Linked DNA regions of Homo sapiens. The protein of the gene in region 1 purifies or fractionates together with the protein of each later gene. This does not show direct contact. Each region holds a gene or a part of one and is shown in the gene's direction. Other genes may lie near its edges.

The links.
Region 2: the proteins of ENTPD1 (region 1) and ASCC3 purify together in Homo sapiens (affinity purification with mass spectrometry; one large-scale study listed by BioGRID and IntAct). This does not show direct contact.
Region 3: the proteins of ENTPD1 (region 1) and ANKRD44 purify together in Homo sapiens (affinity purification with mass spectrometry; one large-scale study listed by BioGRID and IntAct). This does not show direct contact.
Region 4: the proteins of ENTPD1 (region 1) and ANKRD50 purify together in Homo sapiens (affinity purification with mass spectrometry; one large-scale study listed by BioGRID and IntAct). This does not show direct contact.
Region 5: the proteins of ENTPD1 (region 1) and USP34 purify together in Homo sapiens (affinity purification with mass spectrometry; one large-scale study listed by BioGRID and IntAct). This does not show direct contact.

What each region holds. Positions count from the first base shown.
Region 1 is NC_000010.11:95,846,647-95,850,167, forward strand, and holds part of ENTPD1 (ectonucleoside triphosphate diphosphohydrolase 1), read left to right. Parts: exon of another isoform or gene 1-90; intron 91-745; exon of another isoform or gene 746-799; coding exon 800-1,060; intron 1,061-2,764; coding exon of another isoform or gene 2,765-2,926; exon of another isoform or gene 2,927-3,521.
Region 2 is NC_000006.12:100,511,008-100,514,346, reverse strand, and holds part of ASCC3 (activating signal cointegrator 1 complex subunit 3), read left to right. Parts: intron 1-1,428; coding exon 1,429-1,638; intron 1,639-3,339. UniProt on the Homo sapiens protein: ATPase involved both in DNA repair and rescue of stalled ribosomes. 3'-5' DNA helicase involved in repair of alkylated DNA: promotes DNA unwinding to generate single-stranded substrate needed for ALKBH3, enabling ALKBH3 to process alkylated N3-methylcytosine (3mC) within double-stranded regions.
Region 3 is NC_000002.12:197,300,773-197,304,293, reverse strand, and holds part of ANKRD44 (serine/threonine-protein phosphatase 6 regulatory ankyrin repeat subunit B), read left to right. Parts: intron 1-1,774; exon of another isoform or gene 1,775-2,061; intron 2,062-2,880; exon of another isoform or gene 2,881-3,331; intron 3,332-3,521. UniProt on the Homo sapiens protein: Putative regulatory subunit of protein phosphatase 6 (PP6) that may be involved in the recognition of phosphoprotein substrates.
Region 4 is NC_000004.12:124,674,716-124,678,236, reverse strand, and holds part of ANKRD50 (ankyrin repeat domain-containing protein 50), read left to right. Parts: intron 1-3,521.
Region 5 is NC_000002.12:61,209,082-61,212,602, reverse strand, and holds part of USP34 (ubiquitin carboxyl-terminal hydrolase 34), read left to right. Parts: intron 1-673; coding exon 674-831; intron 832-3,521. UniProt on the Homo sapiens protein: Ubiquitin hydrolase that can remove conjugated ubiquitin from AXIN1 and AXIN2, thereby acting as a regulator of Wnt signaling pathway.

The sequences.
Region 1 (3,521 bases):
ATCCACAGCAGCCTCCTTTCTTCCCTAGTAGGTTGTGGGTTAGAAATTACTTTTTTTTGGGCCAGGCGTGGTGGCTCACACCTGTAATCCCAGCACTTTGGGAGGCCGAGGCGGGTGGATCACTTGAGGTCCGGAGTTCGAGACCAGCCTGACCAACATGGCGACACCCCGTCTCTACTAAAAATACAAAAAATTAGCCGGGTGTGGTGGCACACACCTGTAATTCCAGCTACTAAGGAGTCTGAGGCAGGAGAATCGCTTGAACCTGGGAGGCTGAGGTTGCAGTGAGCTGAGATTGCGCCATTTTACTCCAGCCTGGGCGACAGAGCAAGACTCCATCTCAAAAAAAAAAATTATTTTTCTTGGATAGGAGAATGCTTGAAGAAGAAAAAAAATTTTTTTAATAATTTTTAAATTATGTAGGCTCCTGGAGAACTACTCCCAGGCCCAAATTTTTGACAACCTTGAGAGTTTCCTTGTGAATTTGCTCCTGACCTAGATGATTAGGACTAAGCACTCAGGGACATTTCAAACTAATGGCATTTCTGGGCCCAGTTTTAACTACATCAGCATTCTTTGACTAGCCAAATACATTTATATCTGATACCACTTCTGGTGCCTGTTACACAAATCCATTTTTCATATTTATTCCTAAGGGTAAAAAGGCAGGGCAGGACATATTGATTCCAATACCAAGTGGTGGGATGTTGTACAGTGCCTACATATTGATTAAGTCAGACTGTACCTTTTGTATCCAAAGCGTTCACACATGATGCTTTCAAGTGATTTTTCCATTCAGGTTGCAAGTAATGAAATTCTCAGGGACCCATGCTTTCATCCTGGATATAAGAAGGTAGTGAACGTAAGTGACCTTTACAAGACCCCCTGCACCAAGAGATTTGAGATGACTCTTCCATTCCAGCAGTTTGAAATCCAGGGTATTGGAAACTATCAACAATGCCATCAAAGCATCCTGGAGCTCTTCAACACCAGTTACTGCCCTTACTCCCAGTGTGCCTTCAATGGGATTTTCTTGCCACCACTCCAGGGGGATTTTGGGGTAAGTTTGTGAAATGATGAGGTATAGGATGTCTTGTTTACAAGTTATAGAATATGTGCCTACAAAAGATTTAAATAATAGGATGCATTTTTCTCTTACATAATGTCTTGAGGTAGATGATTAGGGGTTGGTTCTTCAGCTCAACTATGTCAGAACTTGGGATCAGTTTTTTCCACTATCGTTGTGATCTTTTTGTGCTAAGGTATGTTACTGCTCCAAGCACCATATCACTAGGTCACTGCCTCCTTTTTGGCTCTAGGCAGCACCTTAAGCCCAGGTTCATCTCCTTTCTAGTCAACAATAAGAGTACTGCCTTTCCGGAATGGGGGAGGTCCCAAAGAGGTTAGCCCCAGCAGTGTGGGAAAACTGACTAGGGGGTTGTGCCCAGGGGACCTTGTGGGACAGACCTCCTACAGCCATAGAACAGCCACTCTGATTTGGCATCTCCTTTGGCCAAGTGACAGAGCAGACTTCCCAGGGCTGGGGATGCTAAATCTGCCTCTTCCTTGTCTCTGCCTGTCCCCAGGGATATCTCCCTTCAGGATGTCACGATGCTTACTGTGGGTTAAGACAAAGACAGGTTTCCTGCTAGGGAACCCAGGATGATGGGGAAGCTGATTGTCCACCTTGATCTCACTTTTTCCAGTGTACAAATTGTGAGTTTGGGGGAAATTTTCCACAAGCTTGGTGTCAGGCAGAATCGGGGGAGAGGTGACATGGATGTGGAAGTTTGATTATCTTCCCGTCTGCTTGGAGTTTTTTCACTTCTTTGTGGCCCCAGGAACTGTCTCATCTTCATATTTGATTTCTGGGATATTGCTGGTGATAATCTCAGTGCTGTACATTTGTTTCTGGTTGTCTGTGGTTGGGGGGCATGAAGCCAGCTTGCTTCCATGCCGCCATTTTGGAATCAGACATCCAAGCATCATATTTTCTTTCACATGCAAAGCCAAAGCAGGAAAGATGTTTAAGGTTTTCCTTGCACACATCTCTTGCACACACATTTTGCAGAAGTGCCAACTGACATCTTTTCAGATCCTGCTGGCCAGAACTTGGTGAAATATATACTCTAAACCAATCTGTGATAAAGAGAAATGGATTAATATAGTTAGTTTAGACTAATTATTGTTTATCACCTGAGGAGTCGTTTTTGAGGATATTGCTTTCCTCTACTTGGGTAAAATCAGGACTTCATAAGCGAGGAAGAAGGGGGCTAGCTATGGGGTATGTGCCTGTTAGAGTTTGCCATAGGTGGCTTCTCAAATGTTAGAAGGAGGAGGAGCAGCAGTTAGATGACACAGCTGAGGGTTTTCCTCTATAAAGACATTTAGGAAGTAGAAACTCAGGAAATCCCAAAGAAACATTGAAGATAACATCATTGTCATTATGTTTTGAAGAGTTGGGGGATTATTTGAATCCTAGCTCCAAATTCCTTATTTTCTTAATAACTCCAGAATAAGATAAAATATTTGAGCAGAGGCAGAAGAGATGGCTCTTAATTGACTCAGTCTTCAAATTTCTTATTTTGGTCCCAGAGGCTGAGCATTATTATAATCATAGTTTAGTAGCATATTGAAAAATTAGCTACCATCTGTCAAATGCCAATTATTGACTATGCACTATATGTATATTATCTCATTTATTCATTCAAGATATTCAAAGAAACAAGGCTTTTGCCTGCCTTCATGCTTTCTCCCTTTTCAGAAAACAGATCAGCATGTAAGAAGGGAGGTTCAGCTCCTCCCCTCCAGGACCCCAGCAAGAGAGTTTCTCCTAAGGTCACCTGGCTTGGCCCAAGACAAAGCTCTAGAAGAGAACATAGGCACTGTCGTAATCAGATCTGATTCTACTTCTGGCTTCTTATGAACTGTATGAGCTCTTCATTTTCTTGGTCTCTGAGAAAACAATAGGTAATGCCATAGATCCAGACTTACCTTAACCATGGTCCAAACCACAGTCTACCCTCCCCTCAAGGTTCCTGAGGGAAATACATGACAAGACAATGACTGGCAGAGTAATATTTGGTTATTAGTTGGCTGCAAACCCAAATTCAGAAGAAACTGAACCTCACTTGAATGCCCTGTGGCTGAGCTGGCACTGGCTCTTCACCTTGGACTTTTTTTTGGGCCAGGGCCCTTGCCTTAGATTGAACTCCTTGAAGAGGAAGGAGGGTGCCACCTTGGCCAAGGGCCTTTTTCATTCCAGTCACTGCGAGGATGTAAATCTAAAGTCAATGAACATACCCTTGTGTCTTGAGTTTGTAACTTCTCAGAAAGTTTCACTTCCTGGGAAACATGGCCAATTCCTGCCTTCAAGCTTGAGCAAACCTTTCCTCCTTAGGGGACTGAAATTTCTTGCCTTTGAATGTGATTCATCCAACCAAAGCAGGGAGAGATAGGGGCTGGAAAAGGGTGGAGGAGTCTTGAACTCCCCCTGGAGGCTTTTCTATTTGATCCCTTAG
Region 2 (3,339 bases), on another chromosome or scaffold:
TCCCCTTAACCCCTTTTCCAGACTGGCCAGTCCTAGAAGAACATCTAGTGGTACAGCTTCTATACTTAGTGACTATGGGTTCTAGCAGGGGATAGACCATCCTTTGTACAGGTTGTACAGATTGAAGTACCATCTGTGGCTTGACTACTTCAAAATCCAGTTCAAGACATGATTTCAGATTGATAAGACAAGTTATAGGATTGGAGTTGAATTGAAAATTTGCATTGAATTTACATTTTTTTTAATTCCTAAGGGGTAGTTTGGTTCATCAGGACTACTTCATTTCAATTAGGTATACTCAGCAGCACTAAGCAAAATCAAAGCCTATAAGGAAATCTATAGTATATATTAAAGGAATAAAAGAAAAACCAAAATTAAAGTACCATGTACTTTTAAAAACTAACTGAGAAGGTAACAACTGATTAAAAAAAAAAAAGCCAATGTATTGAGAAGTTTTCTTGACTGATGGTGATATTGCCATATAAGTGTATATGTTAGAAAAAGATGACCTCAAGTTTTTTGTTACATCTTTTCTGTAGACCTAGGTATTCTCATTCATTCATTCATTATTGTTGAGCACTTGCTATTTGAATACTGATTTTTTACAAATGTCTTTCCACTTCAAGAGCAAGTATAAAGTTAGGTAAAATATCTTTTAATGTGTCATTTTAATTGGTATTCTCAGTATGATGATGCCAAAAATTCATATTTGTTTCTAGAAGGAACCCTAGACTTATAGAATTCCTTATGATATAAAATATAAAGAATTTTTTTCTGAATAAATAGGGCAAATTTGAAATATGGGCCAAAAAATGTACAATAAGTGGTCAGTGGAGGATTCTAACATCAATAATTGAATTACAAAAATATTTTCACATTGCCCTTTTATCCCCAAGTAATGCTCTCCTTCTTAGAAGCCATGTGAATGTCTGAATAGATGCTTCTCTAAAACAAACCAGTTCGATAACAGACATTTTTTAACTTGTTTTATTTTAATATAGTCAACAGCTGCTCAGTATCAGGAAGGATTTACAATAAAGGAATCACAAGTTTAAATAATGATAAGCCCTCTTTTAGTTATTTTTACAAAGACATTAAAAAGACTAAAAGCACAATATTCTTACACATACATGCATATAGACACAAATACAAGAAAAATTGGGGAAATCTGAACAAAATCACTGGATTATGTTAATGTCAATATCCTAGTAGTAATAAGTACCGTAGTTTTGAAAAATGCTACCTTTGGAGGAAACTGGGTAAATGGTCCACAGAATGTCTCTGTATTATTTCCTGCAACTGCATTGGATCTAGAATTAATCTCAACATTAAAAGGTTAATTTTCGTCTAAAAGCACACTATTTCTTAATTGATCATTGCATTTCACATAAACTCCTCCTTTATTGTTTCTTTTCTCTTTTTATTTAGGCATGGAATTTCTTATCTCACTTGCCAGTGATAAATGTTGGCATAAGTGTTAAAGGCTCGTGGGATGACTTAGTTGAAGGACATAATGAACTCTCTGTCTCAACTCTGACTGCAGACAAACGAGATGACAACAAATGGATCAAATTGCATGCTGACCAAGAGTATGTGCTTCAAGTGAGCTTGCAGAGAGTCCACTTTGGGTTCCACAAGGTATAGTGTTTGGTTTCCATTCTCAAATATTTCACACCAAATACCAGCATGCACCACCACACATATCTGTTATGTGACTAATGTGCCCGTGTCATTCATGAATCCTGCTTTCTCAACTGGTCTTAAGCAGCGAGAGTTAGTCTTTTGAAATTCGTGAGTTCTCCTCATGTGTCATTTTTCAGCCCCAGAAAATCTACCTTACATAAGAATATATTGCCTAGAGTACTATTCTCAAAGTATGGTATACAGACTCTGGCCAGCAGAATTTCCTGGAGTGCCTTTTAAAGTGCAGATTCCTTGGCCCCACTCCAGACTGGCTGAATCAGAACCTCAAGGAGGCGGGAATCTCAAAATCTATACCTTCACTCAGTGCCCCACATGATTTTTAAGGGCCTTAAAGCTTGAGCAGTACTGGCCTAGAGGCACTTTGGTATACAGGAACCACATTGGGCTAGATGTAGATGAGACTGAAGCTTTACCACTTAGCTCTATGAATTTGAATAAGACATTAAGCTTTTCTGAGCCTCAGTTGCCACATTTGCCTGCGTCCTTCATTATAATGCATAGGAGAGCTTTGTCAATGTTCATACAGGCAAAAATGTACAGTATTTTTATTTTAGATTACTATGCTCTTTTCTGTTGCCTCTGATTATCTGGTCCTCTAAGAATATTAGTACACAGCAGGTGGGCAGATTGGTTTTTAGTGCCATAATAATTAAAATAAGAAAGAATTAGTCTTCTTTTTGGTCCAGTGGATTCAGGGCTTTCCCATATCTAGAATAAGCCCTCAGGGGTGAAGCTGTAGTTCATAAGTATTGTCCCTTCTGTTCTCACACACAAAATGATCAGTAACTTTCTATTCTTAAGATGTTCTTTCAGTATTGTACCTTCAAGTCTCACCTCATTTGATTTCTAATTCTAAAAAAGTCTGTCAGTGTAAGTATTAACTGATTGGCCTCTGGCATTTCAGAGGCTTTAGTATGAGCTTTTTTTTTTGATACGAAGTCTCACTGTGTCGCCCAGACTTGGCTCACTGCAACCTCCACCTCCTGGGTTCAAGCATTTCTCCTGCTTCAGCCTCCCAAATAGCTGGGTTTTACAGGCATGTGCCACTACACTCAACTAATTTTTTGTATTTTTAGTAGAGATAGGGTTTCACCATGTTGACCAGCTCATCTTGAACTCCTGACCTCAAATGATCCACCTGCCTCTGCCTCCCAAAGTTCTGGGATTACCAGCATGAGCCACCACACCTGACCTTAATATGAGGTTTCATTTGTTTGTTTGTTTGAGATGGAATTTCACTTATGTTATCCAGGCTGGAGTACAAGGGTGCAACATCAGCTCCCTGCAACCTCCGCCTCCCGGGTTTAAGCAATTCTCCTTCCTCAGCATCCCGAGTAACTGGGATTACAGGTGCCTGCCACCATACCCAGCTAATTTTTTGTATTATGTTGGCCAGGCTGGTCTCAAACTCCTGACCTCAGGTGATCCACCTGCCTTGGCCTCCCAAAGTGTTGGGATTACAGGCGTGACCCACTGCACCTGGCAATATGAGCATTTTTTAGATGACTTAATGTATTCCAACTTATAAAAAAAAGTAATAATTACAAACTAATAATAGTAATAATAAAAATAGCAACAATCATAAAGATAAAATCATGGGGGAAAACTATGATTTTTTTACCTTAATATTCTACT
Region 3 (3,521 bases), on another chromosome or scaffold:
TTCCCAGGCTGGAGTATAGTGGTGCAATCTTGGCTCATTGCAACCCCCGCCGACCCCCTCCTGGGGTTCAAGTGATTCTTGAGCCTCAGACTCCCGGGTAGCTGGGATTACAGGCTTGCACCACTACGCCCAGCTAATTTTTGTATTTTTAGTAGAGATGAGGTTTCACCATGTCGGCCAGGCTGGTCTCAAACTCCTGGCCTCATGTGATCTGCCTGCCTCAGCCTCCCAAAGTGCTGGGATTACAGGGGTAAGCCACCACACCTGGCCTAAGATTGCCCTCTTTATAGATTACTCCTTTTTAACCTTTTAACCAATATATTATTTGGCTTTGGCTGCTTTCAGAGGTCGGGAATGCAGGTATTTGCCCTTATCAGTGTTTATGTTTGTAAATATGTTGGTAGCCTAAGAGGTTGAAATTAATGATTCATGAATCCAGCTTGTAATTATGATATTCATAATTTTTAAGGATCTTTTCACTTGCCTCCTCTTTTGAAAACTTAAAATTTATATTCTATAAAGTGAGCTAAGCAAATAAATATATAGTCCACTTTGGGCTGTTTCAGGGATTACTAAGTCGATAATTGTTTGCATTTCTTGGTTTTTGTTTGCTTAGAGTCCCCTTGCTCCCATCCTGGGGAGTCTTAAGCATCCAAGCATAGCTTTCTAGGATATCTTTTATACCAGAAGACCATTTTCCCCTAAGAAAGCTTTCAGAGCTTTTAGTAAAATTAGGGAGACTTGTGGAAACATCTGTTTGAGCCTAGACATGGAAATTAATTACAATTCTAACCTGTCTCTAAAAGTTTTGCTTTTTTTATTTAAAAAATTTTGTTTTGCTTTAGTTTGTTTTAAAAATAACACTAGATTGGGAATCAGAAGACGTGGATTCTACTCATGGTTCTTCTAACTGTTGTATGGTTTGGGGTAAGTCCTGGCCTTCGTTTCTTTGTCTGTCAAAATGGGAACAGGTAGAAAATTCTCTAAATTCTTCCAAGCTCTAACATTCTAAGATAGCTCCTCACATATTTCAATGTCAGTCTTTTCTCATCTTGTGGAATCTCAGTTCAAAAAGTATCTGCCTTTTATGAACTTCTGATTTTCTCCCAAGTGTGTTTGTGGCAGCTTTAAAGTTTCCCAGGTTTGGTAAACACATCCTGAGTTTTGTCTAAGGGTGAGGAGTCCTTTCTCCAAGAAGTTTGTCTTCTGGCATCTCCAGGAGCCTGGCTGTGGGGACACAGAACCCCTGGGGCTGTTCTCAGTGTGGTTCTTTGAGAATCCTCTTGAACTTCTTACAGGATAAAGGGAGCAATCCTTACAAAGGCCATGCTTGTCTCTTGTGAGCTGGGGCCCACCTTAGCCTTCTTCAGAGGTGTTGCTTTAGCAAATACCTTGGGTCCTCCCAGGCAAAATCCTATTTTATTGAACCCAAATAACATGTGCATCTAACAAGTTTATTTCTGAAGGGTTGGCCCAGAGTTGGGTGCAGTTGACATGGTGACCACAGACTTTCTCAAGAAAGGAAGAAAATTCCTACATGTAATCACCAGCCTCTGTATGGTTAGTCTCTGTGGAGGAGACTTGTTTTGGTGTCTAAGACTGGCAAGATCAGGAAAAAGGAAAGTGAGCATAAGAGAAGTCTAAAGACAGAAAGCCAGGCAGACATTCAGGTCAGCCGGGACAAATCAACCAACCAATTATTGTGAAACAATGGCCTCCAAAAGTAGGTGTGGCCTACACCCCAAGGATGAACACAATACTTTATTGAGTTGGAGTTTGGGAAAGAGAATATTGGAATTCATATTTCTTTAAATCATTCTTTTAAACTTTTAATTTTTATGTAGTTTTAGTACATCTTATTTGCTAGTACTGTGTCATCTTTTTGGCTGTATTTTTCACTGGCTGCCACCTGGCCAAATCACCACTTGGGTTATAACAGCAGCCTCTGACTGGTCTCCTTCCGTCTGACCTTGGCCCCTGCACTCTACTCTCAACGTAGCTCTCAGAGTGATGGAACTCAGAACTTGTCACTCCTGCTCAAAAACTTCCAGTTTCACCCAGGTGAAAGCTAAGGTCATTAGAGTGACCTCTGCACTCAGCTCATCCACTCAACTGTCCAGCCTTGTCTGCTGTCCACCTCTTCCTGGCTCCTTGGCTCCAGCCCCACTGGCCTCCTCCTATTTAGTGAACACACCAGCTGCGCTCCTGCCTCGGGACCCTTGCTGTTCCTGCTCCCTGTGCAGCTCCTCCCTAGATATCTGCATGGCTCACCTTTACCTCTTTCGGGTCTTTCCTCAGATGTTACCTTCTCAGTGAGTCCCTTTCTGACCACACTATTTAAAATGCCCACTCCACATTTCCTGTCTGCCTTTCTTTATTTTCCTCCACAGTGTAAATCCCTCATACCATATATTTGACTCCCCCCATTTTAAAAACCAAAACTTACATGTGGCTAAGATATAGATAACAGGACAAAGATTATTTTGTTAGTTTGGTTCATTCACTGCTGTGTCTTTAGCACTTAAAACAGGGTAAGGTGCATAGTAAATGCTCAATAAATATTTGTTAAGTGATTGAATATAAATATGTATATGTATCTGTATATGTACATGTTCAAATGTTTTTTACTCATGAAGTACTCAAACAAAGAAAAGAGAAACACTTCTATAAACAGCTTTCATTTTACACTGGGATGTCAAATTTCCATTCAAACAAAATTAAGAGAAAGTTTTCTGCCCTATGAAAAGATAAAAGATCACATATTGTCCTATTTTCTGGTTATATTTTCCCTCTTTTTAAACTGTGCTTTTGGTTGTGAGGATGGTTAGCACTGTAGGTAATTCTCAGTCGTAGGTAATTCTCAGTTCCATTTCTTTTCAGGGGAAGTATCAAGGTGACATGAGGGGACAGGAAATATTGTCCCTAAATGTTCTAAGAGTGGATCTCCCATGTATTCAAGCAATCGAGGGGTGTTTAATGAGCTCCATCTACATAGCAATGATACAGCATAGCTCTGCTGGGGCTCTCTGCTCTCCCCTTCTCCACAAAAGGGAAGGACAGGTAAGAACAGGCACAATAAAATAGAAACCAGACAGAAAGAATTGGGAACAAGGAGACAAGACAAGAATCATGCTTTACGTGATTTAATCCTAATATTTTTATGAGAGGATGGCTATCATCATTTCATTTTAAAGATGAGGAAAATGAAGCCGGGTGCGGTGGCTCATGCCTGTAATCCCAGCACTTTGGAAGGCCGAGGAAGATGGCTCACCTGAGGTCAGGAGTTCGAGACCAGCCTGGCCAGAGAGATGGCCAGAGATGGCTAGAGATGGTGAAACCCCATTTCTACTAAAAATACAAAAATTAGTCAGGTGTGGTGGCAAGCACTTGTAATCCCAGCTACTTGGGAGGCTGAGGCAGGAGAATTGCTTGAACCTGGGAGGACGAGGTTGCAGTGAGCCGAGATTGTGCCATTGCACTCCAGCCTGGGCGACAAGAGTGAAACTCTGTCTCAAAAAAAA
Region 4 (3,521 bases), on another chromosome or scaffold:
TTAACACACTCTTTGTCTTGTGGGAAATAAAAGAAGTGTAAAACAAGGACATATCACAGGATATATAGTGTAATTGGAGAGATATTAATGATTAATTAGCCATATAACTTTTGAGTAGTTCTATACATTTTACAGTATGTTGAAATCTTGTTAGTTTGTTAAAATAATTTTCTGTAAGCGGCTTTATTCCTTCTATCAGGTTGTCTCTCTTCAATTCCCTTGCTACTAAAGGCAGCACTTTTGGTTTCCACATATGGCATTCTTTCTTGTTGTTATTGATAAAAATATAGTTGGTAAAAGTTTAGTAATTTAAATAACAATAGCTAACACTTAACGTAGCATTTAGTATGTCAGGCATAGGTACAGTAGAAGCCCCTTTTGGTCTGTGTCACCGTTCCTTTCTTTTCCTCATTAGAGAAAACCAGTATTATTCACTTATTTTATATGCTTTCAGCTCATATTTTATATTATGTATGTTTATAGTTTACATAAATGAAACACTCCGTACACCATCTGAGCTTTTACCACTCACTAGCCATGTGACTTTACACAATTTATATTCTGTGTGCCTCTGTTTCCTTATCTATGAAATGGGGATTATAATATTACTTTTCTTATAGGATTTTTGTAAGGTTAAATGACAAATTACATATGAAGCACTTAAGACAATGCCTAATACATAGTAAGTGCTTCAGAAATATATCGTTGCTATTATTATTTGATTCTCTTTTTTTAGCCAACAATATTTTTGAGCCATATTCATTATAAATCCATTTCATTGGTTTTAATTGGTAGATAGTACTCCTTCCCATCAATAAATCTCTTTTTATTTTTCCGTTATCCTGTTCATGGACATTTAGATCATTTTCAGTTTTTTGCTGTTACAAAAAATGCTTCATGAACATATTTGTTCATGTATTCTTGTGCACATGTGCTGAAAGTTTACATTATAAATCTAGACTTGTAATTGCTGGATTATAGAGTATGTACATTTTGAACTCCAGTTAAATTTACTTCTTTTTTTGGGATATTAATTATTAAATTGTTGGGCTGTATATAAACATGTGACCACCACTCTGTTCATGGTAGATGTGGAATTTTGAGGTAAAAATTTAAGGATATTGCTAAAGTTATTAATACATATTGTCAAATTGCTTTCCAAAAGGATATATATTATTATATTCCTACCTGAAAGTGTTGGGTGGTTTCTTTTTACTTGCACCAGTATTGAATTATGTCTTTCTTTAATTTGTCAATGTGGTATGTGAAAAATACTCTATTATGTTTATTTGTACTTCTTGTTTACTGTTGAACCCTTTCTCCCTTATGCTTATTTCATCAATTTGCCTTTTTTCCATGAAATTCTGCTATCTGACCTTTATGTTTTTATTGGGAAGTCAAAGTTATTTTCTTACTGATTTTCAGGGCTTGTATTTGATATTTTTTCAATTCTTTGCAACTATTTTCTTCAGCTTTTTAAAATTGTAATAATTATTTTGAAGTATATTATTTGTAACCTCTAATGTATTGTCCTTTACTATTCTGTATTCTTAGTTTTACCTTTAATGATTTTGCCCATATACACTATTTTTTACTAAAAGGTATGAAATAAAGCTCTAACTTGAATAATCTGTAAAATCATAAATTTTCTCAGCAATTTATTGACTTCCTTTACAATTACTTGGTGATTTTTTTTCATCATACATTAAGTTTGGGTGTGTGTACATATAGATATGTCTGTGTACTATTACTCTATTTCTAAACTATTCATCTGCTCTTCTAAACTATCTGTTAGCATTATTATGCAAATAAAATGTTGGCTTAATTTTTGTAATTTTCTTGTGCAATTACTTCCCAGCCCTCTTTGCCATCATTATTATTATTTTAAATTATATATTTTTACCTGTGCTCCTCTAGGTTGTAATAGCATATTTTAAATTATAACTGTCAGTGATATAAACCAAAAAATTATTAAGATTTTGATAAAATTGCAATTTAAATAAGAAAGAATTTGCTGTTTAAAATATGCTTTCTTTCTACTCATAAACATAACATATCTGTGCATTTATTCAAGTTTCTCCTTAGATTTTCCAGTTATCCTTCTATATGTCCTACACATATCTTTCTGGTCTTTGCTTACGTTTTAAGTTGAAATGTATGTGTTTTTAGTTGTATGCATTTGAAATTAAAATTGCACGTGTATCATCATAGCCAGTAACATTAAGATCTTTACTATGTCTAAATTGGCTTCACCTACTCATATCTGAGGATTAAGCCTTTGGAAAGACAGTTTTTATAACTTTTCTGATGTATTCACTATACTGACCAGTAGCATTTTCATTAATGGCTTCAGATTAATCTAATGAAAATGACTTTGGCACTAAGCACAATTTTGACTACAACTAGGGTATTCTCATAGGCTGATCATTGTTAGGCCTTGTTATGGGACTGAAAGAAATAGCAGCCTATTTCAAAACATTTTGTGCACAAAAAATTAACCCTCCAAGATTTTTAAAAGATTATTTATGTGTTTATTTTATCTGATTATAAAAGTATTACAGGCTCCATTTAGAACATATTTTAAATGACAACATACACAAATATTACACCAGATACTAATAAGAGTGCTTAATTATTATTAACACGTTGTGTTAAATTCTGTATATGTTCCCCTTCCTAGTTGAGATCATGCTATATATCAATTTGATTTTCTGCTTTTTAAATTTAACATTGACAAACCTTTCAGTGTCACCATATTGTCTTTTTAATGACTATTTTAATGCCTACATATTTTATTTGTATATTAATATGCTGGCATTTGCTTAAACTTCTTGTTATATTTTTAGGTTTTATTTTCGTATTGCTTATCCTCATATGTTCTTCATGATAATAAGTAATTTCAGTAAGCATCAATTTATAAATATTGGCACAGGTCTTCTCTTTCACTCTGTTTTCACCAGTACTGCGTAATGCGGTACCCTGAGAAATAATTCAAGCAAGAATAGAAAATAATAGAAATGTTTCAAGTAAGAATAGAAAAGTTCAAGTAAGAATAGAAAAGTTCAAGTAAGAATAGAAAAGAATAGAAAAATACTTCTATTCAAGTAAGAATAGAAAAGAAATAGGGAGGTAGGTGGTCCATCATTTCAGTAAGTCATGTTTTTATTCCCCTAGAAGTTTTGATTATTTTTCAGCCCTATCTTATGTTTAAAAGTGCTTTGATAGCTATATATTGTGTGTGTTCATAATAAGAGGATTACATGTGTATTAGTCAGAAGTTATAATTTTTAAAAGTAATTATTTTCAGTACTGTAACTCAAGATATTTAAGTTGTTGATTAATAGATATTCTTAGTTCTGTTTTAATGAACAGATAACTATTATAACCATCATTGGTAAAGAACATGGTAATTTCTTCTATCTAAAATCCATATTATTAAGTATTTAGATTGGGGGGAGATTTATTCTCTAAATTATAAATTCTCTGTAAGTTTTCTTTATGAAATTCTATACTTTCTTATA
Region 5 (3,521 bases), on another chromosome or scaffold:
ATGAGTCTATAAAATCACAGCTAGTGATTTTACTAAAATATTTGTTTTTACTTTTTATTCATCAGGAAATTGAACTGAGCATCATTCTAGAAAAGCATTTTAAATGTTGGAACAAAGGTTTACCTCATATACACTATTAATTTAAGGGTTATTTAGGCATTTAAAATCTTTGTGACAAAGTAATGATTTCTCATTAATTAAAGAAAAAGTGGATAGGAGATGGTGTGGCATGCCTCTGGGTTTACATTTGAAGTTACAAAAGTAGTGCTTTAAGCAGTAATAAGACTAAAAATGAATTGTATTCACTTACAGTTTTTACTCTTTCTAAACTTGTATTTTAAGATTTGTTGAGTTCTTTTAGTGTTTATTATTATTGTTATTATTTGTATTTTAGTAGAGACAGAGTTTCATCATGTTGCCCTGGCTGGTCTCGAACTCCTGAGTTCAGGCAATCTGCCCGCCTCTGCCTCCCAAAGTGCTAGGCATCAGCCACTGCGCCCAGCCAAAATTTTTTAAATAGAATTTGTTACTGATTTTATAACTTTCTGAATGGAAGTATAATCTAGCTTATTTGTATAATTTTAAGAGTTGATTAATGAACGTAGAAATGAGAAACTGACCTTCTAAAATGCTATAGGGTTAAAAGATCATATGGCTTATTTGGCTTTTTTAGGCAGTAGAAGAACTGTTTAACCTGATGCAGCTGTTTATAGCTCAGAGGCCAGATATGAGAGAAGAAGAATTAGAAGATATTAAACAGTTCAAGAAAACAACCATAAGTTGTTACTTACGTTGCTTAGATGGCCGCTCCTGCTGGACTACTTTAATAAGGTAAAAAGATGTTTTTAGTTTTGTCTTGTTTATTTCCAGTGAGATGAGGACCATCCTTTTGATGTTTAAAGATAAATCATTTACATTGGGGAAGCATTTGTGCATGTAGCCACTTTGGAACATTTTGAAGGTTCATGAACTACTTTTAAACAGTTTTTGGTCTGGCTTTGGTTTGTATTTGTGTATGTTTTATCATTTTAGGGTTGAAGGGAACCTTTATGTATAGCCTTCTACCCAAAGCTTGAATAGTCTTGTTTATGGCAATTTATCCTAACTCAGGCTTGATAGTTCAGTTCTAGAGGCCTCCAGGAAGTTTTCTGCACCTTTGGATGAGTCTGTTAATATTTTGCATTCTGTTTAGCCCAAATATATCTATCTGGCTTTCTGATCTATATGACTTGGCCAAAATTATAAAACATAGTCTTTATAATTAATTTTCAGAGCTACAGAAGTTATTGAATGGTTACAGGAACTACTACAAATTACCCTTAATTCCCCTTAACCTAGAGAAATAAAGTTCAGGCTAATTTCTTAAATTCTTCTATGTATTACATCTAAGACTTGGAAGTGTTGTTTTTTATTAGGCACATTTTTTTTAATGGTACTTTACTGAAGACTTCACTGTAATATCTTAAGCTACTCAATCTAAGATGAGGTTATTTCAGATTGTCTTCTTTGGAAAGCTTTCAAATGTGAGTCTTCATTAGTAAACAGGGAAATTAACTACGCCTTTGCCGGATTTCTTAAAGGGATTGTTTTTAAATTTTGGATTAATTTTGAATACAATTGTTTTCCCAAAGTTTACTACTTAAAGCTTTATTTCAAAAAAGATTTAGAGCAGCCTGGGCAACATAGTAAAACCCCATCTCTATATAAATAAATAAGTTAGCAAATAAATTAGGGTGTGACGGCATGCACCTGTAGTCCCAGCTCCTCGGGGGGCTGAGGTGGGAAGATCCTTGAGCCCAAAAGGTGGAAGCTGCAGTGAGCCATGATTGTGCCATTGTACTCCAGCCTGGGTGACAGAGCGAGTCTCAAAAAAAGAAAAAAAAGATTTGGAGCTTTCTTAACTCTTCTTGAAAAAGGAAAGGAATAAAGTAGAAGGATTTCCAGTTGTAGTCTATAACAACATTTTTCTGGTATCTAATGAAAGAAGACCTGTTAACAGTAATATAGCTGTGTGAGTAATTATAGTCATGTGTTGCATAACAACAGGGTTACATTCTGAGAAATAAATTTTTAGCCTATTTCATCATTGTGCAAACATCAGAGTGACTACTCACACACAACTAGATAGTAGCGCCTGCTACACCCCTAGGATATATGGTATAGCCAACTGTTCCTAGGCTCTAAATCTGTATAGCATGTTACTACACTGAATACTGTAGGCAATTATAACAGAAAGGTAAGTATTTGTGTATCTAAACGTATTTAAACATAGAAAAGGTACAGTAAAAATATGGAATAAAAGACAGAAAATGGTACACTTGTGTAGGGCACTTACCATGAATGGTGCTTGCAAGACTGGAAATTGCCCTAGGTAAGCCAGTGAATGAGTGGTGAGGGAATGTGAAGGCCTGGGACATTATTGTACCCTACTATAGACTTTATAAACACTGTACACTTAAGCTACACTAAATTTATTTTAAAATACTTTTTCTTCATTATTAATGTACTGAACTTTTTTTACTTTATAAGTTTTTTTAACTTCTTGATTCTTCTATCGTAGCACTTAAAACACACTATCATAACACTTAAAACACACATTTTATAGCTGAACAAAAGTATTTATATCTTTATAAGCTTTTCATATTTAAATTTTTTTTCTTTTTAAATGTTTTCGTTAAAAACTAAGACATAAACACACACAATTAGGCTAGGCCTAGCAGGGTTGGGATCATCAGTATCTCTGTCTCCCACCTCCACATCTTGTCCCACTTGGGAGGTCTTCAGAGGCAGTAACTAGCTTAGAGCTGTCATCTCCTCTGACAATGATGCCTTCTTCTGGAATCCCTCCTGTAGGGCCTGTCTAAGGCTGTTTTACATTTAACTTTTTTTGAAATAAGTAGTAAAATAATGATAATATAGTAAATACATAAACCAGTAACATAGTCATTTATTAACATTATCAAGTATTAGGTACTGTACATAATTGTGGTATACTTACAAGACTGGCAGTACAACAAGTTTGTTTATACCAGCGTCATCAGAGACATGTGGGTAATGCATTGTGAATGTTACCATGGCTATGAAGTCACTAGGCTAATAGGAATTTATCAGCTCCATTATAATCTTATGGGACCACCATTGTGTTTGTGATCCATCATTTACCACAATTTCATTTTGTGGCACATGACTGTATTTTATAAACTATTTTCAAGGCTGACACGTTTTTAGTATTTTTTTCCTTCATGTTACTCTTTTTTAATTACCAGCTGATGAGTGTTTAGATAATATGGTGAATTTTATGATTATCCAGAATTTAACAATCAGAAGATGAGCCTATTATAAAAATCAACATTGTTTATGTGGAAACTTTAAAAATATTCCCATATCTTCTGCCATTGTAGATAATTAGCAGTTGATTAGATATTAATAGACTTTTTTTTAGTTAGAGTTTATTTAATATTATTTCCTTATGCTGCATTTCCAGGAAACAGATGAAGCAGTCTCTTTTCTGTAGGTAGGAA